Linked DNA regions of Homo sapiens. The protein of the gene in region 3 purifies or fractionates together with the protein of the main gene of each other region. This does not show direct contact. Each region holds a gene or a part of one and is shown on either strand. Other genes may lie near its edges. The genes, in order: CUL2, STK3, PTPN14, WWP1, INSR, ACAD11 and AMOT.

The links.
Region 1: the proteins of PTPN14 (region 3) and CUL2 purify together in Homo sapiens (affinity purification with mass spectrometry; 2 studies listed by BioGRID, with this or other methods). This does not show direct contact.
Region 2: the proteins of PTPN14 (region 3) and STK3 purify together in Homo sapiens (affinity purification with mass spectrometry, with the first as the bait; 2 studies listed by BioGRID). This does not show direct contact.
Region 4: the proteins of PTPN14 (region 3) and WWP1 purify together in Homo sapiens (affinity purification with mass spectrometry; 3 studies listed by BioGRID). This does not show direct contact.
Region 5: the proteins of PTPN14 (region 3) and INSR purify together in Homo sapiens (co-immunoprecipitation; one large-scale study listed by IntAct). This does not show direct contact.
Region 6: the proteins of PTPN14 (region 3) and ACAD11 purify together in Homo sapiens (affinity purification with mass spectrometry; 2 studies listed by BioGRID and IntAct, with this or other methods). This does not show direct contact.
Region 7: the proteins of PTPN14 (region 3) and AMOT purify together in Homo sapiens (affinity purification with mass spectrometry, with the first as the bait; 2 studies listed by BioGRID). This does not show direct contact.

What each region holds. Positions count from the first base shown.
Region 1 is NC_000010.11:35,031,156-35,035,254, forward strand, and holds part of CUL2 (cullin-2), read right to left. Parts: coding exon 4,017-4,099; intron 2,119-4,016; coding exon 2,011-2,118; intron 1,340-2,010; coding exon 1,280-1,339; intron 465-1,279; coding exon 336-464; intron 232-335; coding exon 145-231; intron 1-144.
Region 2 is NC_000008.11:98,706,693-98,710,791, reverse strand, and holds part of STK3 (serine/threonine-protein kinase 3), read left to right. Parts: intron 1-3,480; coding exon 3,481-3,645; intron 3,646-4,099. UniProt on the Homo sapiens protein: Stress-activated, pro-apoptotic kinase which, following caspase-cleavage, enters the nucleus and induces chromatin condensation followed by internucleosomal DNA fragmentation.
Region 3 is NC_000001.11:214,366,150-214,370,248, reverse strand, and holds part of PTPN14 (tyrosine-protein phosphatase non-receptor type 14), read left to right. Parts: intron 1-557; coding exon 558-792; intron 793-4,099. UniProt on the Homo sapiens protein: Protein tyrosine phosphatase which may play a role in the regulation of lymphangiogenesis, cell-cell adhesion, cell-matrix adhesion, cell migration, cell growth and also regulates TGF-beta gene expression, thereby modulating epithelial-mesenchymal transition.
Region 4 is NC_000008.11:86,345,423-86,349,521, reverse strand, and holds part of WWP1 (NEDD4-like E3 ubiquitin-protein ligase WWP1), read right to left. Parts: intron 1-4,099. UniProt on the Homo sapiens protein: E3 ubiquitin-protein ligase which accepts ubiquitin from an E2 ubiquitin-conjugating enzyme in the form of a thioester and then directly transfers the ubiquitin to targeted substrates.
Region 5 is NC_000019.10:7,168,316-7,172,414, forward strand, and holds part of INSR (insulin receptor isoform Long preproprotein), read right to left. Parts: coding exon 3,975-4,099; intron 2,437-3,974; coding exon 2,222-2,436; intron 1-2,221. UniProt on the Homo sapiens protein: Receptor tyrosine kinase which mediates the pleiotropic actions of insulin.
Region 6 is NC_000003.12:132,572,688-132,576,786, forward strand, and holds part of ACAD11 (acyl-CoA dehydrogenase family member 11), read right to left. Parts: intron 3,240-4,099; coding exon 3,085-3,239; intron 1-3,084. UniProt on the Homo sapiens protein: Acyl-CoA dehydrogenase, that exhibits maximal activity towards saturated C22-CoA.
Region 7 is NC_000023.11:112,830,588-112,834,686, forward strand, and holds part of AMOT (angiomotin), read right to left. Parts: exon of another isoform or gene 3,038-4,099; intron 1,784-3,037; 5' UTR 1,707-1,783; intron 1-1,706.

The DNA.
Region 1 (4,099 bases), on a different chromosome or scaffold from region 3:
TTGTATATCCCACTGTGTGACTACACAAATACACATTTAACCAGATGAATTGTTTCCTGTTACTGTACACAATGCTGCAATGAACATCTTTATGTGCTTGTGAATGAATTTCTAGGACAATACCACATTAAAGACTTACATTACCTTTAATTTGTTGATCATGGCTTCTTCAGAGTCCATAGACATGGATAACCCATGAATTAAACGTTTTGCCAGCATTCTTGCGTAGAACTACATTTAAAAATATTTTAAAAGATTACTTCCTTTCTAATGATTTAGCATTCAGAAATAAAGTTGACCAAAATACAAATGAAACTTTTCTGTTCACAACATACCTTTTGAAAGACGTCCTTGTCATCAATGTATTTGAACACTGTGATGAAGCTCGTGAGCCTGTCTTCCACTTCATTCTCTGTCATCCCTTTCGCTGACTTCTTCAGTAAGTTGTCACAGTACTTAGCAAGCTCATGTAGAAATTGATAATAAATCTTACAAAGGGTGCTTCTGTATATATCACGCCTCAAAGGAGGCAAAGTGGTGATACAAGGTAAGATCAGCGGACAGAATTTTTGCTGTTTTTTTTAGAGACCGGGTCTTGCTCTGTTGCCAGGCTGGATTGCAGTGGACAAGATCATAGCTCACTGCAGCCTCAAACTCCTAGGCTCAAAGGATCCTCCTGCCTCAGCCTCCCAAGTAGTTGGGACTACAGGCATGCACAACCACACCAGGCTTCTAAAGCTTTATGTAATAATCATAAATGTAAACTAAATAAAATATACATCATAAGGTAAATTTTTAAAAAGAACAAGTCAAATATCAAATCATCACTTATTGACCAATAAAGCAACTGATATAAGTAATACAAATTTTTAAAAGAACACCTAGGTGAGTTTCGAGTGGTTTTATAATTTTTGACATTGAACAAGTACTTTAAAAAAAAGTTACAAAAATCTTGTAAGCAAGTTTCCTTCAAAGGTTACCCAAACTTTATCATCAGATTTCCTTTAGATTTCAGATGTAACAGAATCTACATGAAAAGTATTGCAAATTATTTCAAAGTAGATATACATTAAAACCCAAACTTTGTAAAATGGTTATTCTTTAAGACACATAGTATATTGCATTCCTTACATAAATGCCAAACTATATACAATGTAGATAATTTTCCTTCTATTTTTCTGAAAAATGCTACAAAAACCAAATTAATTTGATATTCTGAGTTCTCATTTTCTAATACTGACTTTTCATAAGATTACTTTTCAGCAACCACCAAACTTACCAGTTCAGGTGCTTTGCAAACAGACTTAGGTTCTCTGTAATTTACAACTGACGTAAGGGCCTGAATAAAAAAACACGCCATAATTAACCACCAGCCATAGGGAAAAAGTACAGCTAGTTCAATATAAGCCATAATCTGTACATCCAAAAATTACCCCGCCACATAAAACACAGCATTGCCGGTAGTTTGTTAATATTTTCATGCCTAACATGGTAGACTCCTCTGACTTTATTCTCTAATTACAAAATATCTATATATCCTGTTGCTATTCCAAGATATTCTGTAACTCATTATCGAAATTTGAACAGATAAAATAACGTTACTTAAAAAAAAACTTACAATCTTGTAAGCAGCTTTCCTTTAACGTATGCAAAAGTTCATGTAAAACATATCTATTCTCTTTTCAAATATTATTCAATATAGCCTAAGTATTATGGCCAAAGAAAAAAAATCAGTACTAAAAATTGCAAAATTATGCATGTCTATCCAGAACATATCAGATTAAAAATTCCCCTTATATAGCATAATCACGGGACATTCTACAAGCATTCAATTTAACTATTCAGTTAATAATTTAAAAATTATATTATTTCTATTTTGAATTTCATATCAAAATTACTTAATCTCCATGTCTACATCAGAAACCTCATACTAGAATTCTGATCTTGAAACTGCCTAAAGAATGATAGAGTTTTATGTACATATATAGTATATATGTATTTAAAACTTACCTTATCCAACGCACTCATAAAATGCTGATCACCATTCAAAACAGTGTTGATAAGCTGAACAAATTTACCATGCACTTCCAAAACTGACTCCACAAATAGTGTTGGCATCTAAAAATGAAATATAAGTACAAAACCACATTTTAAGAGGTTCAAGGATATCCAAACTATGAGGTTTATTAGACTTATTAGTAAATTTTTCCTCAAGGAAATTATGTTTCACACATGCACACTTCTCAGAAAATGGTTTTAGCTAAGACGGTCTTAGAAATTTACAACTTTGGTGTTGAAGGCTGGGCACAGTGGCTCACACCTGTAATCCCAGCACTTCTGGGAGGCTGAGGCGGGCGGATCATGAGGTCAGGAGATCGAGACCATCCTGGCCAACACGGTGAAACCCCGTCTCTACTAAAAATACAAAAAAATTAGCCAGACGTGGTGGCGTCCACCTGTAATCCCAGCTACACGGGAGGCTGAGGCAGGGGAACTGCTGGAACCAGGGAGGTGGAGGTTGCAGTGAGCAGAGATCGCACCACTGCACTCCAGCTTGGGCGACAGAGTGAGACTCCGTCTCAGAAAAACAACAACAACAACAAAAAAAAAAAAAAAGGAAGAAAGAAAATAGCTTGTCATTCAACACAACAAGCTGTCATAGACTGTCTAGTACCTGTCAGAAGAACCCACCAAAAGCATACTTTTCTACTGTGTTGGAATAACTTATCTTAAGGATAACAAGACCTGAACTACCAGGTCTATCACTTTCATAGAGGCTTAAATAAGCAAAGACTGCCTGCAAAGTCACTAAAGGCTGAGAGAAAGGAGAGTTAAAAAGCCAATAATCCTGAGAACAGAGACCCCTTGAACTCGGCAAGACAATCCCTCACATCTCAGAGAGAAGAAATACCTAATAGTACAAAAGTGAGTTTTCCCTCTTAATGGAGATAACCATGAAGAAGTTACTACCTAAGACTTAACTAAGTCAGTTGGATTTGAGTCTACCACAAATGTATTCACTTATGTTTCCATCTCCCAGCCTTGACACAAAATTCGATGCTTCTATGCCCAATGTCATTGGACATGGAATCTATAAACGTAATAATGTAAACTAGTAAGTTTGACAAATAATAGAGTAATAAACCTGAATACTATAAACTAATAGTTCTACAAAAAATAGAAAACTGTGGTAAAGGGAATTTGAAGAAATAAAAAAATAGAAAACTTACACATTATTGTGGCATAACATAAAAACTAAAAATTATTACTTGCCAAAAACCAATCTGCAGCTAAGGTAACAGCCTCTAAAAAGTGCTCCTGAACAGTGACGTCTATACACAGATACTATCTTATAGATGAAGGGCAAACAGCTCTACTTAAGAAGAGACAGTAACATTTGAAGTTATTTCTCTCTTGCTCATCAAACATTACCAGTAATAACAAGATTTGGTGATGGGAAAGACAAACTGTTACAGTACAAACTGTTACAGTCATGTGATTGGCAAAGTATTCGAGAAAGATGAGTATTAGGGATATGAGGGTTATTGTTTTGGGTATTTGGGGCAGCAAGCATATACTTACAGAAGATTATTTTAATCTAAATTTGCTTCCTGGACAACCAAATTCAGAGGATATGGAAAGGAGGCAAATTGCAAGTCGTCTATATTACCACTGATTAATACTACTACCATGACAACAAACTACGTTATCAATGCCAATTACACAAAAACACAGTTATTTAAAAATGGCGAGCTTATTTTCCTGTGGAAAGTTAACAACTGTTCAATGGACACCCTCCGTATGGCTAAGCAGCAGCCTATCAATAGCTTTCTAATAATCTGATAATTCCAAAATGAGTCCAACAAATTCTAGGTTTAAAACATTTGAATAAAGACATTTCTTTCGTTGGCATGGTAAGACTTTTTCTTTCATCTTTCAAAACAATAAAGTCAAAGGAAAGGCTCCACGCTGGATCTGATTAGGAGGAAAACATTGCAGTTTCCCACACAACTCACGTTTTCCTGAGTAAGGTTGCTGGTTGCTCGAAGGCCCTCATCATGGATGTGGTTTTGCAGCTCCTGAATCATATGAGGTAAAC
Region 2 (4,099 bases), on a different chromosome or scaffold from region 3:
CTACTCTCTTCAAAGATGTCAGACAGGGACATTTAAGTCTGCAGACGTTTCTGCTGCCTTGTTTGGCTATGCCCTGCCCCCAGAGGTGGAGTCTACAGAGGTAGGCCAGCCTCCTTGAGCTGTGGTGGGCTGCACCCAGTTTGAGCTTCCTGGCTGCTTTGTTTACCTACTCAAGCCTGGGCAATGGCAGGCGCCCCTCCCCCAGCCTCGCTGCCGCATTGCAGTTTGATCTCACACTGTTGTGCTAGCAGTGAGCGAGGCTCCATGGGTGTAGGACCCTCCAAGCCAGGCGCGGGATATAATCTCCTGGTGTGCCGTTTGCTAAGACCATTGGAAAAGCACAGTATTAGGGTGGGAGTGACCTGATTTTCCAGGTGCCATCTGTCACCCCTTTCTTTGACTAGGAAAGGGAATTCCCTGACCCCTTGCACTTCCCAGGTGAGGTGATGCCCCGCCCTGCTTCAGCTCATGCTCAGTGCACTGTACCCACTGTCTTGCACCCACTTTCCGATACTCCCCAGTGAGATGAATCTGGTACCTCAGTTGGAAATGCAGAAATCATGTGTCTTCTGCAATGCTCACGCTGGGAGCTTTAGACTGGAGCTGTTCCTATTCAGCCGTCTTGTCTCCATCCCTATTTATTAGTTCTAATAGGTTTTTTTTGTGGAATCTTTAGAATTTTCTACATATATGATCATATCATCTGTGAACAGAGATAATTTTACTTCTTTTTTTCCAGTTTGGATGCCTTTATTTGTTTTTCTTCCCTAATTGCTCTGTCTAGAACCTCCAGTACTATATGTAACAGAAGTATTAGGCTGGTGCAAAAGTAATTTCGGTTTTTGCCATTACTTTAAAAAAAAAATGGCAAAAACTGCGATTACTTTTGCACCAACCTAATAGCATCCTTTCATTGTTCCTGATCTTTGTGGAAAAGCTTTCAGTCTTACTGCTTTGAGTATGACATTTACTTTGGGTTTTTTGTATATGGCTTTTACTATGGTGAGATAGTTTCCTTCTATTCATATTAGTTGTGTGTTTTATGAAAAGAAGTTAAATTTAATCAAATGCTTTTTCTGTTTTCATTTGAAATGATCATGTGGTTTCTTCTCCATTCTGTTAAGGTGGTGTATTGCATTGTTCGATTTTGTATGTTGAATCAACCTTGCATTCCAGGAATACATTCCAGTTGGTCATAGTGTATAACCTGTTACAATCCTGTTGAAGTGAGTGTGCTATATTTTGTTGAGGATTTTTGTATCAATGTTCATAAGGGATATTGGTCTTAGTTGTTTTGTGGTAACTTTGTCTGGCTTTGATATCAGAATAATGCCTCTTAAAATGAGTGTGGAAGTGTTCTCTTTTCTTCAGTGTTTTAGAAAATTTGAGAAGTTGAATCAAGATATTTTAATCTTTTTTTTTCCTTTTTGTGGAGTGTATGTTCCCAGATAGCCATTCACATGGTTGGCCCCATTATATCATTTAGACTTCAGTAAAATGTCTTTTGGGCCTTCTTGAATGTCAATCTAAAGTAGCTTCTCAGTCGTTCTCTATCAGTAGCTCTCTATTGTTGTCCTCATAGCAATTTTCACAGACATTTTCCTGTGTTATCCTATTTTCTATCAAATTATCCCGTTGCTTATAGATAGAATATAAGCTTGAGAGCAGTCCCTAATCATTTAGAATTTTTATGGTTGATTCTGTTACATAGGCATGATTGATTAAGTCTTTGGACATTTGTGCTTAACTAAATCTCTACCCCCTCTCTCCTTGCAGCCCTCCCGTAAGTCAGGGGTCAGGCAGAAATTTCCAAACATCTAATCACTTGGTTGGTTTTTTCGGCAACCAGCTCCCATCCTGAAGCTATCTAGGCTCCCACCAAGAGTCACCTGATCAGTATAAATTCTGGTATGGTTGAAAGGAGCTTATTATGAATGACAAAAGACAGCCCCTCTCACTCTTGTGAGAGGGTGAGAAAACAAAGATAAAATATCTTGATTCAACTTCTCACTCACTCAGTCAATTCACAGGGTCTTAGGAGATTTTGTGCCAAGAACCTACAAAGACCAAATATTTCCTGTGATTTCATAATATCACACTACCTTACAAGGTTGTTTTAAGAATAAATGAGAGAATGCATGCATAACTCTTAGCACATTGCCTGGTACAGATAGCAGTGGCTCTACTGCTACAACTGTTAAGAAGATTTTCTTTCTTTCCCATCCGTCTCTTCCTCGGCCTTCTCTACTCTCCCCTTTTTCCCTCCTCTGATAGTCTTTGCTTGTGTTTCCATTTTCCTAATCTTTCTCTGACGTTTTTTCTTCTGAGTTCTCAATATTAGGTCAGAAGTCCAGAACTTGGAAGGGTTAGGAGTGGCATTGGTGTAGGAGCTTCTCGCAGAAGATTCATTGCAAGCCTCCCTCCCTCATTTACTTTCCTTTATGTAAAGCTGTTGGTTTCATTTTCATCAAGAATCTGAAATATCTCAGGGGAAGTATCTGAATTTACTTTTTCAGAACAGATATTAGCTGTGATAGTGCCCTCCCAGTATTAGAAGATGTGGGAAATCACTATTATGATTCCTTATATCAGGCTGATTCTTGAGATATGTTGTTTGCTTTAGGAATGATACTGATAATTTTTTTTTTTTTTTGAGATGGAGTCTCGCTGTGTCGCCCAGGCTGGCATGCAGTGATGTGATCTCAGCTCACTGCAACCTCTGCCTCCCAGGTTCAAGTGACTCTCCTGCCTCAGCCTCCTGAGTAGCTGGGATTACAAGTGCACGCCATCACGCCTGGCTAATTTTTGTATTTTTAGTAGAGACGAGGTTTCACCATGTGGGCCAGGCTGGTTTTGAACTCCTGACCTCAAGTGATCTGCTCGCCTCAGCCTCCCAAAGTGCTGGGATTACAGGTGTGAGCCACCACGCCCTGCTGATACTGATAATCTTAAAGAGAGAAATTTGATCATCCTTTCATTAGTAAAATGTGTAATAAGAAAGCTTATTGTGGGAAGAAGAGGTTCTCGATTATTTACCCCTTTAGCATTTTCCTGGAGGTTTAGCGGTCATTAGAAAGAAGTACTTGTGGCTAGGCATGGTGGCTCACACCTATAATCCCAACACTTTGGGAAGCTGAGGAAGGAGAATTGTTTGAAGCAAAGAGTTCAAGACCAGCCCGGGCAACATAGCGAGATCCCCATCTCTACAAAAATAAAAATAAGTTAGCCTATTGGGTTGGCATGTGCCTGTAGTTCTAGCTACTCGGGAAGCTGAGGTGGGAGCATGCCTTGAGCCCAGGAATTTTAGGCTGCAGTGAGCTATCATCACACCACTGCACTGTAGCCTGGGCAACAGAGTGGGGTCTCTTAAAAAAAAACACACACACACACACGGAAAGACATACTTGTTACTAGTGCTCTTTCGTAAGATTTTATCTAACGTGGCATTTTAATTATGGTTTTAAAAATATTTCTTTCCAGTTAATAGAAGATGAAATTGCAACCATTCTTAAATCTACATTGAAAGGACTAGAATATTTGCACTTTATGAGAAAAATACACAGAGATATAAAAGCTGGAAATATTCTCCTCAATACAGAAGGACATGCAAAATTGGCAGATTTTGGAGTGGCTGGTCAGTTAACAGTAAGTTAACTTTAATGGTTTTCTAAACACTTGGCTAATTTGTTCAGATTTGATTATAACTAAACTTCAATTACTTTTTGAGGGGGAATGGAAAGAAATGTGTAGTTTTTTAATTTTTGTGGAGAAGGAACCATAATTGAGCCAAATTTGAGTATTATTTAATTTATAATTTAGGGTGATTGAATGTGAAAATATATCTTATAATCAAAATGCTTAAATGTTCTAAAAGGGAAGCTACGTAGCTCATTTCTGTAGCTTTTATCATTGTAGCACTATCTTTAATGACTGTGTTTAATGATGGTAGTGTGGATAAGTTACCTGTGGACTCTTGGTTATTTTCAGAATTCGGAATTCCTAAGTATGTCATAACTAGTTGAAATTTTAGCAAAATAGTCAATTTCTGATATAATCTGTGGCATTGGAGGTTTTAACATTTTTTAAAAGTATGTTTGGC
Region 3 (4,099 bases):
GGGTGCAGTGGCGTGATCTTGGCTCACTGCAAGCTCCGCCTCCCGGGTTTATGCCATTCTCCTGCCTCAGCCTCCCCAGCAGCTGGGACTACAGGCACCCGCCACCGCGCCTGGCTAATTGTTTGTATTTTTAGTAGAGATGGGGTTTCACCATGTTAGCCAGGATGGTCTCGATCTCCTGACCTTGTGATCCACGCGCCTTGGCCTCCCAAAGTGCTGCGATTACAGGCGTGAGCCGCCACGCCCGGCTGACCTTTGTTTCTTGAATGCACGAAGCTTGTTCCTGCTTCTAGACTGCACTTGCACTTCTCTCTAACATTCTACTGCACCTCGGTTGTGAATCTTTTAAATTTTCCATTGATGTAACTGTCATTGTAAATTGTGTTATTGGTCTTAACTAGCATGTATAGGATCTACCCTGTGGTAGACACTGCAGAGTGCTACTGAACTAGCGATTTAGAAGCTATTTGCATTTTCTTCTGTCTTCATATCTTAGGATTAAAAGGATGAGAGCTTCCCTTGACCTATTTCCAATTTTGCTTTTATATGTGATTTAGGAGGGTGGACGAACCAAAAGCCACCGATACTGGCCCAAACTAGGTTCAAAGCACAGCTCAGCCACCTATGGCAAGTTCAAGGTCACCACGAAGTTTCGAACGGATTCTGTTTGCTATGCAACCACGGGCTTGAAGGTCAAGCACCTTTTGTCTGGGCAAGAAAGGACGGTGTGGCATTTACAATATACTGACTGGCCAGATCACGGCTGTCCAGAAGATGTCCAAGGATTTTTATGTAAGTGTTTTTCTTCCCAGTCTGCTACCTGACTGACTTTTATGATCTGTGTCAATAATTCATCTGTTGGAGATGAAATGGAAAAAGAGGATGCTTTCTCTTAAGTGGCAAAAGTATTATAATATTGAAATATATATTCCTTTCTTACTATGTAGAACAGAGTATAATAATACATGTCACTTATTCTGTTTACCTTTCATGCACGTAAGCTAAGACTGTGATCAACATATTGGCTCTACCTTGATTCAGACCTTTAGCTACTCATTTAATCAGTAACTATTCTGACACATGTTACAACAAGGATGAACTTTGAGGAATGATGCTGAGTGGAAATAATCCAGTCACAAAAGGACAAAAACTATGTGATTCCACTTATATGAGGTTCCTAGAATAGGCAAGGTCAGAGACAGAAAGTAGGTGAGAGGTTACCAGGGGCTGGGGCAAAGGGGGATTGGGAAATTACAAATTTTTTTCTGAGGCGGAGTCTCGCTCTGTCACCCAGGCTGGAGTGCAGTGGCACAATCTCAGCTCACTGCAACCTCCGCCTCTCAGATTCAAGCAATTCTCCTGCCTCAGCCTCCCAAGTAGCTGGGACTATAGGCACAGCCACCACATCTAGCTAATTTTTGTATTTTTAGTGGAGATGAGGTTTCACCATGTTCGCCAGGCTAGTCTTGAACTCCTGGTCTCAAGTGATCTGCCCGCATCAGCCTCCCAAATTGCAGGGATTACAGGTGTGAGCCACTGTGCCCAGCCAGGAATTACATTTGATGGGTGCAACATTTCTGTTTGGGACAGGGAAAAAGTACTGGACATGGATGATGGTGATGGTTGCACAACTATGACTATGCTTAATGCCACTGAACTGTGTACTTAAAAATGGTTAAACTGGTAAGTTTTATGTTGTGTCCACTTTAGCACATTTTAAAAAAAAGGAGAAATAAAACTTAAAAATAGGCCGGGCATGGTGGCTCACACCTATAATCCCAGCACTTTGGGAGGCCGAGGTGGGCGGATCACCCGAGGTGAGGAGTTTGAGACCAGCGTGGCCAACATGGTGAAACCCCATCTCTACTAAAAATACAAAATTAGCCAGGTGTGGTGGCGCATGTCTGTAATCCCAGCTACTGGAGAGGCTGAGGCAGGAAAATTGCTTGAACCTGGGAGGCGGAGTGAACCAAGATTGCATCATTGCACTTCAGTCTGGGCAACAAGAGCAAAACTCCATCTCAAAAATAAATAAATAAATAAATAAATAAAAACGAATAACATTAAAAAAATTGTTTTCATGAAGGTTTGCATCTCACAAGACCTATATTTCCCTACAGTTGAGCATCTCAGTACTTTCTCGTACTTTCTCATATTTTTATGAAGACACTAAGAAGTATTGAAACCCTCTTGTAGTTTTTGAAACTGAAATTTGCTCAATGGCTAATTCATTAATTTCTGTGTATGTGTACTTTTAGAATGTGGTTATATTAGAAACTAATTCACCAGATTATGTGCAGTATTTTTATTTGAAAGACCCAAAATTGGGCATGTACCCACTACGTGCCAGGCACTGGATCGGGCTCTGAGAATGCAGAGATGACACTGAGTTCAGTCTTCACTTCCGACGTACTCAGAGCCTAATGGGAAAGACAGGCCAGTCATCATCGTCCAAAGATGAGATCTGATACCCTCCTCTGCTTTTCAGCGGTGGCTGCAGCTCTCCCTCTTGCTTTCCACATGCTCATCTAACTGTCCTGTGCTTGTCAGGAGACCCCGTTCTTTACTCACCCACCTGGAAAGGAGCCCCAGATGCTCCCTGTAGCCTTGTGCCTGCTCTGTTGTTGACTCTCCAGCTAGTGGAAGACCTGTGACCACCATGGAGGGACCATGATCCAGATGTTGGATCATGTCAAAACCTTGATTTTATTTTGGTATTCATTTAGAATGGGAGAAAAGGGGAATGACAGAGGGAGAGAACAGGTTCTCAAGACCTAAAAATACTGATTTACAAGTTCCAATAAATATTCCGATGTGTACTTATCCAGCAATACAAGCATTTCATTTCCTTGAAAGTGACGATGGTACTTGAGGGGTTTGGCACTGAAAGCAGAGAGTAGAAGGATGATTGGAGTCAGAGAATCTAGAGTAAGATCCAGAGAGGACTCGTGATTTGCCTGAAGTCAAATGGCTTGTTATCTGTAGCTTGAAATAAGGGCAGTGACCTTTACAGAACTTCTTTTCCTCCTAACAGTGCTCATTGTATTTCTTTCACCTGATCACGTGCTAATTGACTTATTAAAATTTTCTCCAAGAAGCAAAAAAGGGAAATAATATAAATAGATCAGTTTGTTGATTGGCTAACAGCTCTGATGAAAGAGTGAGCTTATAAGGCACTTTAAAGTATAGTCTTTTAAATCAGAACCAATTAAGGAAAGCCTGTCTAAATTACCAAAAAAGACATAGTATTTTTTTTTTTTTTTTTGAGATGGAGTCTCACTCTGTCACCCAGGCTGGAGTACAGTGGCAAGATCTCGGCTCACTGCAAACTCCGCCTCCCGAGTTCACGCCATTCTCCTGCCTCAGCCTCTCCGAGTAGCTGGGACTACAGGCGCCCACCACCACGCCTGGCTAATTTTTTGTATTTTTAGTAGAGACGGGGTCTCCATCTCCTGACCTCGTGATCCGCCTGCCTCGGCCTCCCAAAGTGCTGGGATTACAAGCGTGAGCCACCGCGCCCGGCCAATACATAGTATTTTTAAAGAATGTAAATGTATGTATTATGCTTTTAGGAAAGTCAATACACGTATTCTGTGCAGGGCATTAGAAATGTTGAATCTGTTTCTCCTAGGTTTTAAAAGATTTTTGCCCATGTTTAAATTAGATTACCTGGATGCAGAGTACCTGAGCCAAATTGTTTACTGCCCGCCAGAAGTCTTTATTGAGTTACAGCGTAAGGAACTTTATTAGTATGACTGATAGAGGAAACATCCTTTGAATCCACCTTCTCTCCATTACATGAAAAGCTCTATTTGAAAGTGGCATCTACCGTATTACCCAACATTCCTTTTATTTTTCTTCTTAAATTTAGCTCAAGTAAAGCTTTGTCTCTTGTATGTAAATATTGCCTTTGGTCAGATAGAATACTCAGTTGCCTAATGTCTTTTCCCCCTCGCAGAAAAATTGTAAAGAAGATTCCACACACAATATCTAGCTTGTATTGGTACCTAATAGTAACTACTCCCTCTATGCATCTCACGGCATCTCCTTTTCTTTTTCTTTTTTTAATTGAGGCGGAGTTTTGCTCTTGGTGCCCAGG
Region 4 (4,099 bases), on a different chromosome or scaffold from region 3:
GTAAGTCCTGTTTTGGTATAGTAAAGCTGATGTTATACTTAAATAAAATTTATGGTAATCTGTTACATGGGTGGCCCCAAATGGATTCACACATTTGTACCCTTGAACCTGGGCTAGATTTGTGACTTGCTTTAACCAGTATAATAAGGCAGAAATGATACTGTATCCCTTACAAGTCTAAACCTTAAGAAGATCTGGTTGCAGACCAGGCACGGTGGCTCACGCCTGTAATCCCAGCACTCTGGGAGGCCGAGGCGGACAGATCACCTGAGCTCAGGAGTTCCAGACTAGCCTGTCCAACATGGTGAAACCCCATCTCTACTAATACAAAAATTAGCTGGGCATGGTGGTGCACGCCTGTAATCCCAGCTACTCGGGAAGCTGAGGCAGGAGAATTGCTTGAACCTGGGAGGTGGAGGTTGCAGTGAGCCAAGACTGAGCCACTGCACTCCAGCCTGGGTGACAGAGTGAGACTCCCTCTCAAAAAAAAAGATCTGGTTGCTTCTGTTTTGTACTCTTGTGAGCCCTAAGCCATCAGCTACCAGGTAAGGCCAGCAACTCTGCTGGAAAGGCTACTTGGAGAGAAAAGCAGCCATTAGAGTGATCACCAGCAAAACCTGCCCAACTGAGCCCAACCCAGGAAAGCAAAACTGTAACAAAGAAAATGGTTGTTTTAAGTCACTTGGTTTAGGGCTGTTTGCTACACAGCAGTACATAACTGAAACAACACTCACCTGGTTCCTTGTGTGTTCTGCATAATTTGTTCAAACCCCAGAAAAAGGAGAGGTATAATTAATTACACTCCGCAAAATTACAACCTGAGAAGATAAAGTTCTATGCCCTTGTTAATGTTAGTGATTCCACTAAACTCCAGGTTCCAAGAGGAAAGGCTTCATATCTGTCATCTCAACACTGTACTCCCAGCACCTAGAAATATGTCTGGCACATAGTAGGTACGCCAGTATGTGCTGTGAGTGAACTGTAGATTTAAGAAATGTCAAGACGGCCAGGCGTGGTGGCTCATGCCTGTAATCCCAATACTTTGGGAGGCTGAGGCGGGCAGATCACCTGTGGTCTGGAGTTCAAGACCAGCCTGACCAACATGGAGAAACCCCGTCTCTACTAAAAATACAAAATTAGCCAGGTGTGGTGGTGCATGCCTGCAATCCCAACTACTTGGGAGGCTGAGGCAGGAGAATCTCTTGAACCCAGGAGGCGGAAGCTGCAGTGAGCCAAGATTGCGCCATTGCACTCCAGCCTGGGCAGCAAGAGGGAAACTCCGTCTCAAAAAAAAAAAGAAAAAAGAAATGTCAAGACTAAATCAACAAATGCTACTCTTCCTTATAACTTAAAAACCATGCTAGTCTTCCTTATAACTTAAAAACCATCTGACGTATGGTTTTACATTATACATTCCCTAAAAAAGTTGTTTAAATGTATGAATTGAAGCATCCACTAAGGAGGGCTTTTTAATATCTTTGGGTTTTTTTCAATGGTAGAGCTTATGATCTAATACAAAAATAATAAAATATCATGATACAGGTTGAGTATCCCTAATCCAAATATCCAAAATCTGAAATACTCCAGTGAATGTTTCTGTTGAGTAATGTAGGTGGCTCAAAGTTTCCCATTTTGGAGCATTTCAAACTTTGAATTAGGGATACCCAATCTATATATATTTTGGAAATTAGATCCTCATTTATATCCTCAAAAAATGTAAATTTTTGAAGACTAAGCTTTTATAAAAGGGAAACACAAACTTCATCTGTAAAAGCAACAGAATTAAATTCAAAATTTTCAAAAAAATAAATATCTACATTTCACCAATGTACTTTTCCAGATAAGAAATCAACTTTTGCTTTATCCTTGACAGGAGAATAACTATTCTGTGGTACAATGCTTACAAATTTAAATATCACCTACCAATAGCCACTGCAGTGAGATTACCATTTTAACACAAAGGAAAAAACTGACAAGTTTACCTCTACACGGTACAAAAGTTTAACACATTCCAAACAGGTAAATTCAAATCCTTCACATACAGCTCTTAACTAATGATGTTCCATTGTACATGAAGAGTAAGAAGTCTGGTGGGAAAAGAATACTGACATAGGAACAAAAATAAGGGTTTTAGTTGTAGTTCTAATTGTGGCCACTAACTAGCCACATACTTTGGAAATTTAACTTTTTAAACTTTTTTTTTAGCCTCAGCATATTCATCCAAAAAGCAATGATTGGCTGGAAGCGATGGCTCACGCCTGTAATTCCAGCACTTTGGAAGGCCATGGTGGGAGGGCCACGAGTCCAGGAGTTCGAGGCCAGCCTGAGGAAACACAGCAAGACCCCATCTCTATAAAAAATTTTAAAAATTTAGCTGGGTGTCATGACATACACCTGTAGTCCCAAGTACTTGGGAGGCTGAGGTCTAGGCTTCAGTTTAGCCATGACTGTGCCACTGAACTCCAGCCTGGGCAACAGAGCAAGACCCTGTCTCAAAAATAAATAAATAAAATAAAATAAAATAAAATATAAAGCAGTTATTACTTCCTAACACACCAACTTATCAGTTGTCATGAGAACCAAATGATAAATATAGTTATTATTTACAAATGTGAAATGCTATACTAACATAAGGTATAGTACAATTCTTAATGCCAGCAAAAACAATAAAATTCATCTGTGTATGTTTTTATCATTTTTCCTCCATTAAGTATTAGTAACTAGTTCCTTGGATACCACTATAAAGGGCAATTTATTGGATTTTCCAATGCTCATTATAATTGTATCATATTTTTATACAAAGAGTAAAAAACAACAGTCTTTCTAATAATTATGAAATCAAAGTTTATTAACATGTAATAACATGCTATGATTACCTATTACCAGGGAGATAATCTTACAGGTGCAGAAAAGTCAACTGTTTACCAATCGCACTACACTTTAACCGTACTAGCTAGCTACTTAATCCACCCAAAAAAAATTGAGTAGGAATCTTCATTTACATTGTGAAGTCTCCATTTTTATTTGATAAAGGCTTCCTGAAAGAAAAGAATATTCTGAAGGTATAAATGAACAGAGAAGATAAAGTTCTTTTTTTTTGAGACAGAGTCTCGCTCTGTTGCCCAGGCTGGAGTGTAGTGGCGCAATCTCGGCTCACTACAAGCTCCGCCTCCCGGGTTCACACCATCCTCCTGCCTCAGCCTCCCAATAAAGTTCTTAAAGTTTCTTATTTCACTTACATCACCTCTCTCCTCCCTACTCCCCAGCCCAAAGTGAGACATACAAAGAAAGTAACAATCCAAATGAATGATCTGATATTGCTAACTGCTCTTCTCTACCCAATTCATCCCTCAGACTCACCAGCTCTCATGCACATATTAAACAAGGAGAGTAGATACTCTGATGAAAGTCTAGGACTCGAGAATCACAAAATGTTAAAAACTAGAAGGAATCTTGTGGGATCATCTAGTCTTACTGACAAGGTCATTTAAAGGCAGTAACTATATTTAATTGATGGTAAAGCCACTGCATTATCTTCATACATGAAAGAACACCATCATTGTCAACAATCTCCTGATTCCACTTTACCCACCAGCTGAATGATGCTTCAGGCAAATCATTTAAACTCCAGGAATAGTTTATTGTGTAATATAATAGCAAATAACATTAGTCAAAATTCTCTGTAAACTGTAAACCACAACACAAATGTAATATTGTGTTTCTGTATATATACAGCATATCTCTACAGTAAGAGTTCTTATCAGTACACAGAAGAACCTGAAGGTTCTACTGTTTTAAAAAGCTCCCAGTAGGCCCGGCAGGGTGGCTTACGCTGTAATCCCAGCACTTAGGAAGGCCAAGGCAAGCTGATCACTTGAGCTCAGGAGTTCAACACGAGCCTGGGCAAAATAGTGAGACCCCATCTCTAAAAAAAAAATACAAAAATTAGCCGGGTGTGGTGGCAAGCGCCTGTAGTTCAAGCTATTCGGGAGACTGAGGCAGGAGAATCTCTTGAGCCTGGGAGGCGGAGGTTGCAATGAGCCCAGAAGGCGCCACTGCACTCCAGCCACAGGGACAGGAGTGAAAGAAATCCTGCCTC
Region 5 (4,099 bases), on a different chromosome or scaffold from region 3:
ATGACTTGACTCAGCCAGACAGTCAACTGAATAAGCGCAGTCTGTACCCGCGCAAGAAGGACAACCGGCCAATAGTTATTGGAGGAAGGGATTTCCAAGGGTGATGTTTGTCCTGACACAACGTTGTCTCGCATATGGACTTGTAAGACTGACCTGGAAGGAGGTGCAACTCCAGTGCAAATAAACCTATGCCAAGTGAGTTTAGAGACCCTGCAGATCATTAGACATCGGAGAGACGCATCTAAGTAATTCTCTCTGCCTAGAAGACAAACCCTCTCCTAAACCTCACCCCAACCTCGCTCTCTCTCCTTGCACTACATTTTTTTTGAGACAGTCTTGCTCTGTCACCAAGGCTGGAGTGCAGTCCACCTACCGGGTTTAAGCAATTCTCATGCCTCAGCCTCTCAAGTAGCTGGGATTACAGGCACCCACCACCACGTCCAGCTAGTTTTTGTATTTTTTTTTTTTAGTAGAGATGGAGTTTCACCACATTGGCCAGGCTGGTCTCGAACTCCTGACCTCAAGTGATCTGCCTGCCTCGGCCTCCCAGAGTGCTGGGATTCCAGGCGTGAGCCACCATGCCCAGCCCTTGCACTACATTTTGACATAAGTAACTAACTCCCCATGAAGGTATCCCAGAAGCCCTTGGCAGCTCACTGTTTAGAATCTGTCAGGGAAGTGCAGTCAGCAGGCAGCCTGCAGCTGCAGAAACTGCAGGACCTGCTGTAGCATTCCAGCCAAAACCTGACTCTCCCTGGACAGCCCCCACCTATGACTGAGCTTGGTAGATGCCTGGCCGTCCCTTTGCAATGCAGAACTTCCCTGCAGACAACCGTGGCCTTGATCTCTTTCTGGGTTTGGCCAAGACTCAGGGATGCATCACCATCTGAGACTCTCCCAGCCCTATCCTCCCTCCTTCCCGCTCTCTGTTCACAGAGGTCAGACACACGCTATTGTCAAAAGGCTCTTCATGGCTGAGCGTGGTGACTCACACCTGTAATCTCAGCACTTTGGGAGGCCGAGGCGGGAGGATCACCTGAGGTCAGGAGTTCAAGACCACCCTGGCCAACATGGCAAAACCCTGTCTCTACTAAAAATACAAAAAAAAAAATTAGCCGGGCTTGGTGGCATGTGCCTGTAATCCCAGCTATTCTGGAGGCTGAGGCGAGATAATTACCTGAACCCAGGGGAAGGAGGTTGCAGTGAGGCAAGATCACGCCACTGCACTCCAGCCCTGGGTGACAGAGCAAGACTCTGTCCCAAAAAAAAAAAAAAAAAAAAAAGAAGCTCTTCCTCTGTTTCATATTTTATGAATATTACCCTCAATACATTTTCTGCACTCCTAACTTCAACTTGGCAGTCACTTCCCAGGAGATGCAGACTGACATAGGTATTTTACTCAACTTTGAAGTCTTCAGCATCAGCCTGATACACATATAAGAAGGTGTCATCCATTCATCCATCATTCATTCATCCATTCATTCAGTGCTTGTATGACTTCATCCCGTATCCGGTACTATATGGCACAGTAAGCATAGTGATAATATTAATAAATGTGCAGAATCTGCCCTCAGTAAGAAAGCCTATCACACAGTGAGTTGTTAGAGGGAAGTAATACCCCCTGGGGGTGACTGTGATGGATGAGAGAGGACAGCCACATTATCTGGTTTGTGGACCACTTACAGCAGGGGTCCCCAGCCCCTGGGCCACAGACCAGTACTTATCCATGGCCTGTTACGAACAGGGCTGTACAGCAGGAGGTGAGTGATAGGTGAGCAAGTGAAGCTTCATCTGTATTTACAGTCACTCCCCATCGCTTGCATGACCACCTGAGTTCTGCCTCCTGTCAGATTAGCGGCGGCATTAGATTCTCACAGGGGTGTGAACCCTATTGTGAACTGTGTACATGAGGTACCTAGACTGCACACTCCTTATGAAAATCTAATGCCTGATGATCTGTCACTGTCTCCCATCACCCCCAGCTGGGACCATCTAGTTGCAGGAACACAAGCTCAGGGTTCCCATTGATTCTACATGATGGTGAGTTGTACAATTCTTTCATTATATATTACAATGTAATCATAATAGGAATAAAGTGCATAGTAAATGTAATGCACTTGAATCATGCTGAAACCATCCCCACCCACCACCAGTCCATGGAAAAACCATCTTCCACTACACCGGTCCCTCATGCCAAAAAGGTTGGGGACCAGTGACTTACAGGATGCCTGGTCCCCATTGGTCTTCAGGGCAATGTCGTTTCTCTCCTGGCGCCCCTTGGTTCCTGAAACTTCTTCCATCTTGTGGATTTCTGACAAGCAGAGTTTGGGGTTATAGTGGAAGAAGAGTTTCCCCTGAGTGATGGTGAGGTTGTGTTTGCTCCAGTCCCAGAGCTGCCTTAGGTTCTGGTTGTCCAAGGCATAGAAGGAGTAGTTCCTATGGAAAAAACACACACATCTAGTCATTCAACGGCTGGTCTTCTACAACTCCAAGATGGTGTGGCCATGCTCGGAGTTGATCTTGTTCAGTGCTACGTGCCTAATCCTCTCCACTTGCTTGGCACATACTCAACACATATTTGTTGAATGTGGATAACAGAGGAAGTTGAGGAAGTTTTCATGGCCAGGAAGGAGGCTCAGCTCAGTCTTGAAGAGGGGTGGTGAGTCTGTGATGGACTGAGGAATAGGTTTTGCAGAAACCAATTTCTGCAAATAGGGGAAATACTGATAACACAGAGGCACCTAAGCTGAGTTCAGGGAAGAGCAAAGTAGCCTGTTTTGGCCAATAGGTGACAGGAAATAGCTGTAGTTGCAATGGACCAGACCCTCTAGTATATTGCATGCCAGACCAAGACCAAGAACATGTGGCCATCCTTAATAAGGAGAAAGGAGCCATTGAAGGTTTTTGTTTGTTTGTTTGTTTGTTTTATTGAGATGGATTCTCACTCTGGTGCCTAGGCTGGAGTACAGATAATATAGTCTAAACTATATTGTTTAGACCACCTTCTCAAGTCACTTACCAGCTCATGTTGATTAACATGTCCTTTTGTCCCTTTCCCCATTTGCTGTCTGTTCTACAGATGTGAGGCTGGGGCTGAGGCAGCCATCTTGTGACCATGAGGAGCACAAAGATGGAAAGAATCTGGGTCTTCCACAGACCTCCTGCCTATGAGTCAATCTTGATCTAGCTAGTTTGAGTTTCTGCTGTTTTGCTAATAGAGTTTCTAGGACCTCAAGGAGAAGGTTGGAATATACTGGAATATACTGAGATGGAGTCCATCCCAGAAATTAGGATGGACAACCGGGACTAAGAGGGAATGTTCATTTTATGCATGCCAAACTCTACTCACAATGCAGCCCAAACAGCAAATTTAGCAAAAATTCCAGCCTGTACCCTTGGAGGATGGGCACCAAGGTTGGGCTGCTCCCACTTTTGTTTCTCAAGAATGACTATAAAAAAGCTTTTACAATTTTTGGCTGGATGGACCTTTAGGCACATTCCAAGTTCTTTTTTCCCGAGGTTTTGCCAGATATACTTTTATTTGTTTTTTATTTGTTTTTATTTGATTTTTAAAAAATCCTTAAGTTTTTCCTTTTCTTTTCTTTTTTTTTTTTTGGACAGAGTCTCACTCTGTCACCCAGGCTGGAGTGCAGTAGTGTGATCTTGGCTCACTGCAACCTCTGCCTCCCAGGTTCAAGCTATTCTCCTGCCTCAGCCTCCCAAGTAGCTGGGATTACAGGCATGCACTATCACACTTGGCTAATTTTTGTACTTTTAGTAGAGACAGGGTTTCACCATGTTGGCCAGGCTGGTCTTGAACTCCCCGCCTCAAGTGATTCACCCACGTTGGCCTCCTAAAATGCTGGGATTACAGGCATCAGCCACCACACCTGGCCAAAAAAATCCTTAAGTTGTTCTAATACACGAACTTCCTAGTTAGCACTCAGGCCATACACACAATCAGGCCCACGTACCCAATTTCCAAGGTCTCTCCTCGAATCAGACGTAACTTCCGGAAGAAGGAAAGTGACACCAGAGCGTAGGATCGGCGGATTTTTAGATACCCTGAAATTTCTTCAATGAGGCCGAGGTTGGCTTC
Region 6 (4,099 bases), on a different chromosome or scaffold from region 3:
AAACAGGTACATAGACCAATGTAACAGAGAGCCCAGAAATGGGGCCACATACCTACAACCATCTGATCATTGACAAAGGTGACAAAAACAAGCAATGGAGAAAGGACTCCCTTATTCAATAAATGGTGCTGGGATAACTTGCTAGCCATCTGCAGGGGATTGAAACTGCGCACCTTCCTTACATCTTAGCCATTTTTTTGACGTTTAATTGTCCTTTTATTTTCCTTTCTTTTCTTCTTTATTATTTTAAGTTCCGGGATACAAGTGCAAAATGTGTAGGTTTGTTACATAGGTATACAGGTGCCATGGTGGTTTGCTACACTTATCTACACGTCATCTAGGTTGTAAGCCCTGCATGCATTAGCTATTTGTCCTAATGCTCTCCCTCTCCTTGCCCCCACCCTCCAACTGGCCCCGGTGTGTGTTGTTCCCCTCCCCATGTCCATGTGTTCTTATTGTTCATCTCCCCACTTATGAGTGAGAACATGCACACCTTGGCCATTTTTATGCTTGGTCATGTTTGCCCTTCAACAGGGGATATTTGATTAGAGTTTCCCTAAAGCGGTGATGTTCAACATGATAGCTACTAACCATATGTGGCTAATGAGCATTTGAAACATACCTAGTCTGAACTGAGATGTACTATAAGTATAAAATATGCACCCCATATTGAAGAATAAATATTAAAATATAAAGTATCTCATTAATAATTTTTATATTGATTTCATGTTGAAATAGTATTTTTGATATATTGGGTTAAATAAAATATATTATTAAAATTAATTCCATCTTTTTCTTTTCACTTTTTAAAAATGTTGCTATTAGAACATTTAAAATAACATTTAAGGTTCATAGTATATTTCTTTTGGATGGCACTGCCCTAGAGGTTGAAACATGGCTCTGAATTAATTTCAAACAAGTTGCTGGTGGTGAATAAATATTTTTTGATGGCTGTAAAACAGGATAATTACAACTTTATAACTTCATGAACAGACTTAGAAGACATTTACTTCTCAGCTTTAGAATAAAGGAGGTATTCTCAGTTGGGTCTCTATAGACCCTAGATTTGCTGAAAAGCATTAAATGGGTAGAAACTAGGTGCTCTAGGGAACTGCCAAATATATTTCCTAAGACAGAACTGGGATGGAGAATTTTTTGCGTTACAGCCTGGAGTAAATTAGAAGGCAGCTGGAAGGAGCCTCCAAATTCAAAGAAATGAAATGTTCCTTTCACAAATTAAAATAAAAAAGCTGGCCCAGATTTTTGCTTATGACATGCTCACACATCTTTTTGTTTCTGCCAGATCACGTTATTTGTGCCAGATGTGAAAAGTTTCCAGTGAAAACAGGCATATTTGTTAAAAAGCCAGGCTTGCTCTGCATGACACATTAACTTTAAAAGGTGGAAGGGAAATTTTTTACTAATGCAGTATTAAAACACCACTCAGGAAAGCAGCACTTGCACAGAGGGCTTTTGTGCATTCGCGATGCTTGTTTGTCGACTTTACTGTGTCCTCCCTTCACCCTGCTCCAGAGTTTGCATGCAAGCTTGACAAAAGGGTAAGAAGTAATGGTTGGTGCCCTGAGCACCTCTTCATCCTTCTTCAACAGCATCAGAGGCTGTATCCAGGGCCCCAGAGGGTCACACTTTCTCACCTCCTCCCACAGTGCCCAGCCAACAGCTGAACTTTGCTGTATACTAAAAACTTGCCTTCGCTGTATACTAAAAGGGCTCCTGACAAATTATTCCCAGGTGTAGTGTCATAAAGCGGGCTGTAGCTTTTCAGTTAAAAAACTATACAAATAAATCATATAATGCTGAATAATACTTTACAAAAAGCAAACATAGATTATAATAATTTAAGGTAAAAAATACATACTGCAAATTTCATAAGATGGTCAAAAATGTATAAGGAGACCGACATACTAAAATATACATGTGCAGCAAACACAAATACAATTCCATCACCACAGATTTGACCTAACACTAACATGTTAGCAATAATAAAGAGTGAACATTTAATAATAGTTTTTCTTGCCTTCTTAAAACTTAGAAGGGAGATGATGTGGATATCCTACTTCTCTGTAGAAGACTTTTTAAGGAAGTCTGAAATAATACCTTCTATTTCATCTCAATACATATTTCCTAATTTTTTTTCTTTTTCTGGAGACAGAGTCTCGCTCTGTCGCCAGGCTGGAGTGCAGTGGCACGATCTTGGCTGAACGCAACCTCTGTCTCCCGGGTTCAAGCAATACTCCTGCCTCAGCCTCCCCAGTAGCTGGGACTACAGGTGCACATCGCCATGCCTGGTTAATTTTTTTTGTTTTTTTTTGTATTTTAGTAGAGACGGGGTTTCACCATGTTGCCCAGGCTGGTCTTGAACTCCTGAGCTCAGGCAACCCACCCGCCTCGGTCTCCCAAAGTGCTGGGATTACAGGTGTGAGCCACTGCGCCTGGCCATATTTCCTAATTTTTATTATATGGGCCACATGTAACTATGTTTACAGTGATTTGTAACAACAGACTCAGTAGTATATAATTTACAGATGATAATTCAAAAAGTCATGAATATCTCACAAAATGTTGGTCCCATTTCTACTTGTGTTTCTCCAGTGACAGAATTCAAGTCCTCCTGAAGAAGCTGATTCCACTTTTAGGTTTATTAGCATGTTTCTCCTTTCCCTGAGTTTTGGGCTGTTTTCCTGTAACTTTACACTTATGTGTCCTAATTCCTTCTAGGAAACCAATGGACAAGGCAAATCCTTCTTCCTTATGACAGCTCCTTCATGTCCACAGGGAGCTCTAATGTTCCAGGTTCTCTAAAGAACAAGAATCTGAGAAAGTTGAAGGAACTGTCTACACTCTTGTGTGCAGAGGTGTTGAAGCATTTTAGGAACTATTTAATTTTTCATAAAGATAAATACCTCTCATTAGACTATATTTAAATACAGACATAAATATGCCTTATTGAAAAGAATCACCCGGTTCATGTAGAGAAAGTCTGTCTCTCACAAGTAATGTTTTTGTTCAATGTTAGTGTAGTGCACCGGGCTACAATAAATTCAAATAAGTAATCGTCCTCACATGTGCATACAACTTCTTCTTGAAAGCTATCCTTTGTGTTGCCCGCTCACACATGATCTGCAAAGCGCGTTCCGCCAAACCTACTGTTCTCATACAGTGGTGGATTCTGCCAGGTCCAAGGCGGCCTTGGGAAATTTCAAATCCCCTACCTTCACCTGGGAAGAAAGGGGAAAAAAAGGGGGAATGTGAAAATGGCCTAGCCCATTCCTTTTGTTATTTATACAAATCCTGGGAAAGAGATGAGCTGCCCTTAATAAAAATGGCTTTCTAGTGAAAAAAAGTCAGTTCTATAATAAGGTTCACTATGAATTCATGGGAATTTTGATTTCTATGTTTTTAAAACCACCACCATTAAACATTTCAAATTTCAGAACTGTCTCTTAAGTATGTACTATGCATAAGCTATTTTATTAATGCTGCAATAGATACAAAGTTGGAATAACACATAGTCCCTGTACTAGGAGTTTAGAATCCAGAAGAGTGGGTAAGGGTAAGAGATACAGAGAGAAACAAAGGCAAAGGAAGAAGAGATTTTCTGTTCATCATTATAACCTCAGGGCCTGGCAGGTATCAGGGGCCTGGTGAATGGATGGGATGAACACAAAAACATTCCTGGAAGAGGTGGTATTCTAGATGTTCTTTGAAAGGGATATAGTATTCTAATAAGCAAGAGGATGGCATACAGTGTTCAAAGTTATTTATGCTTCTAACTTATATCTAATACTTGAATTCATAAAGTACTGAGGTTTTCTTAAAACAAATAGAGGCCTACAGATCATGTTCTAGGAGAAAGTGTATTGCTCTGAATTATATAATTTTCATATTATCTTTTCAATTGATGTGATATAGAAAACCACATCCAACACTTAAATAAAACCTCACCATTCCATGTAAGAAAATCCGCCAAACAGAAAACTTTCCCTTGACAAATGGAGTAAACAAGAAGGGAAAGTATTAGGTTGGTGCAAAAGTAATTGCGGCTTTTGCCAAAAACTGCAATTACCTTGGTGCAAAA
Region 7 (4,099 bases), on a different chromosome or scaffold from region 3:
TGAAAAATTCTCCCGCTCTCATTTTTCCACCAGGGCAGAGCAGGGCTCCTGGGAGGGAAAGAAGCCAAGAGAAGCAGTGTAGTATCCCAGTGGCTTGCGAAATGGCAGAGTGGAATGCGGGCTCCCCTGTGAATCCAGCTTGCATGCACTTGCCCCAAATTGCCACCCAGCCAAGAAGCTAATTAGTAAAAGCATCAGGTGGGTGAAAACAGGTTCATGGCCTGTAATAGCTTATATCATCTTTCATTTTTGCCCTTGGAAAGATCTGACAGTCAGCTTGAAGACATTCAGTTCTTGTGACCCAACCTGCTTACATTCTGAGAATTGAATTTGTCAGTTTTTAGATCCCAATCTTCAATATATCTTAAGGGACATTTTGCTGTATAGAACTAAGCAGGCATGATCAATGAGCCTGTGTGTGTAGCTCTATTTTCAGCCTCAGTTAAGGTGGCACATTTAAGGTCAGCCCTGTTTAATACTAGATGACTAAGTGACACCTGTCTTAAATGGTCAATGTATTATAGACAGAGGTTGATTTGCAGACCTGACCATAAAAATCATCCGGTCCTAAAGCAGGGGAGGCAATAGGTCAGAGATGCCCCTGGTTTAACAACAGTGGACACAACAGGCATTCCTTCCGTGACTTCTTAGCCAGAACTCTCAAAATAAGGCAGTTCTGCTGTCCATCTTCTCTTTGAAGATTTTTCCCTAATCCCTCTCCATCTATTCCTGACCTCAACTCTGCTCAACATGGAAAATGAATTCTCTATGATGACACTTATCACAGCAAATTTTCCATAAACTTTTACTGAGCACTTACTGTAGCCAGACATTGTGCTAGGTAAGGCCTAGGGTGGCAATAAATAAATAAATAAATAAATAAATAAATAAATAAATAAATAAAAAGAGAGCCCAGTACTTGAGGAGCTCCCAGTCAGGCAGAGGAGGCCCAATTCAACGGGAAAACAGAGGTATGAGCTAATAGCTCCGGCAACACATAGGGCTCTGCAAAAAACCCTGGGCTACCTGAAAAAGCTCCCAAGAGGAGGAAAATATCAAAAACCTATAAGCTGAGTAGAAGACATGGAGTGTGATGACCAATTTGACATCAAAGATAGGTTGAGATATATCTTTGGGAGTCATTAGCATATGGATGACAGCTAAGGTCATAAGAGAGGGCTGGACCATATTGACTAGGAACAGAACAGAACCCAGGATGAAACTAAACATGGACTTCTGGGGAAAAAAAAAAAAAGATCATTCAAGGGTTAGGTACTTTGCAAATGTGGGAGGGAAAGAAATTCCTTTATTTATCCCGATGGCCTTTCCTCCCATATATCTCCAAGCTAGACCTTGCAATACACAGCTCCAGGGACAGAAATCCCCAGCTGTAGTGTGGAGAGAAAAAAAGAAGTTAACTCTCACCTTTTAAGCTTCTGAGTGCCCTGGTAGCAATCACTATTACGGGTTGAGCCAGAAATGGAAAGGGAAGTTGCTAGACTGTAAGATCTTAGAGGGCATGGGCGGGGTGCGTGATTTTTCATTGTATGCATCCCAATACCTAAAACATTAACTGGTACATAAAATGTGCTTAATAGTTGCATACTGAGTGAATGATAACTTCCCCAAAACTTTGCTAGAGGCCACAGCAGGAGAAGAAAACAAAGAAAGACATGGAATAACAATAATAATAATGTTATTATTACCTTTAGTTTCTCAGCCTTCCTTCTAAGGAGACAAAAGCTCTTTCACTCTGCTATCTTATTTGTCCTTCTTAGCAGCTCTGTGGGGAAATAAAGGCAGATGTGATTAATTCCATTTTAGAACTGGAGAGGGAAGCTCAAGTCCAGAACAGATAGCTAATCATAACTAATTGGACCAGAATTTCACTGTTGCCCATTGGTAGGGCCAGCATTGGAACCCAGGTCTTGCGACTTCCTGCCCTGTGCTTGGTTCTAAGACATAACCCTCCACAGAATTGCCCCTCCAGTTTTTAAGAGGACAGTTCACAAGAGAAATTCATTAGGAAAGCAAACTCCTGAAACACTCTAACAGTATCTTGAGCAAGTGAGTGAGCTGCATCTAAAAGAAAGTAATCTGTTTCCCCACGCCAACACTGGGATGACTAAACCCAGTTCCCAGTGGGGCTCTACTAACATAATTGAGAGCTCCCTGTTTCGCTGTGCCCCTTTTCAAGGGAGCCCCATCTGCCTTCAGTCTGGTTTTTGTGTCTGAGTGGGGCTCAGGTGCTGACTGCAGGTGTGGCATCCAGCAGGTGTATGGACAGGAGCCAGCATTTCATATCTTCATACCAAAGGGCCTGAGTCACTCTCTGAAGGCAGAAGGCAGCCCCTCCTCCTCCTGCTGTTGCCTTGCAAGCACAGGGAACCTGCCTTGCCTGAGGTGCCACTGCAGAACTGAATCTAAACCCTGCCTTCCCAAGAAGGACTAAGGTGAGATTAAACCACAAATCATATAACCCAGCTAACTTTCTTATTTGCACAAACTACTGCAGGCATACACCTACACCGTGGGCACAGCATATGGGAACCTAGGTACAGAATGACCGTCACCTAAAGTGATGCGGGGAAAGGAGGGCCACAACTGGCCCATATTTTACATTTGGCTATAAAGCATTGACTCTACTGCAAATGGCCCTAAAATCTCAGAAGCAAGTACTCACCCCCCTAAAAAAAGGTGGAGTACAGTAAAAAGAACCTGCTAGAAATCTTGCACTCCTGTTCTCACCATAACCTCTTTCCTTCAGGCTTCCAAGGGAGAACCACTTAGCCTGGTCACAGAAAGCACCAGGTCAGAAAATTCATCATGTTCCCCTAACCAAAGCCCAACTGGTCCCAGCCTGAGGCAGACAGAATGTTCCTGGGAGTAAAGGGGGGGGGGGGGTCATCAAAATTTTCTTAGCTTCAAAAACTGTTTGCTTTTTAAAAAAACAATCTGCCTCCCCTACTCTCTCTCTCAGGCACACACACATAGACCAAAGAGAAACTAATTGTAGAAGAAAAAAATGAAATCTTACCTTAATAAAATGGTTTGTTGTCATTTGTTCTATTTCCCTAATTCATACGGGAAATTCAAATAAGCTTTGGTTTATAGCCCATGATCCAGAAAGCAAAACTGGCTACCACACTAAAATGTGATCATTGTATATAAACATAGTAAAACAAAACTCTGAACTGAAAATCTAAATGTAATAAAGAGGAATTAGGTTTCTTCAAAACAGGCAATCTAAATAATTTTCCCCATCTGTGATTTTTATCTTAGTTTGCTATCACATGGAACAAATGTCACTAATTCAATGCAAATACATGCCCCTTGAAAACAACCAAAATGAGTAAGGGATGTACTAATTAGCTTCCTAATGGGGAAGGTTTTAATTGAGCTATTCTTTAACAATCTTCATCAAAGTTTCCAGGGCAACTTCATAAAAGGATGTCAAACCTGGCCCATATTTTTATTCCCTTAAAAATAATTTTCAATACACAGAAACACAGAAAGCTGATTTCTCTTCAATGCTGTTAACACTCAGGCCACTACATTTTCTGATGTCAGCAATCCCCTTCCCACAAATATTCCAAGTATGCACCACCGTCATTCTCCTTTCAATTATGTGGTTTCTCTGCTCCTTTACTGATTGAGTCCAGGCCTCTCGGATAATGAGAAGCATGTGCAGGGAAAATATGCTCTTAAAAAACACATACATCAGTTTTATCTGCATTATAAAGAGGAGAGCAGATCGTTTGTCCATATCAAAAAGATTGAAATGTGAAGTTTGCTATGGGGTATATATAAGGGGAAAAAAAGATCAGTATCAATGCCTAAGGTTGATAGGGGGGCGGCACAGTTATTGTGATCTGATGTGACACCAATAAGAAGAAGGGAGACTCTCCACCAAATCCACCCTTTCTAGCTTGGCCACATTTATATTTCATGTTATCTTAATGTTTCTTTTGGGGGTATTTAAGTTCTGACATACACATGGAAATGAGCCACGAATTGTACAGCAAGCATAAATATTCCATCATTAATAAAATCCAGCTGTGTATAAAACACTACAATGGCTGGGTTTCAGTTACTGGCT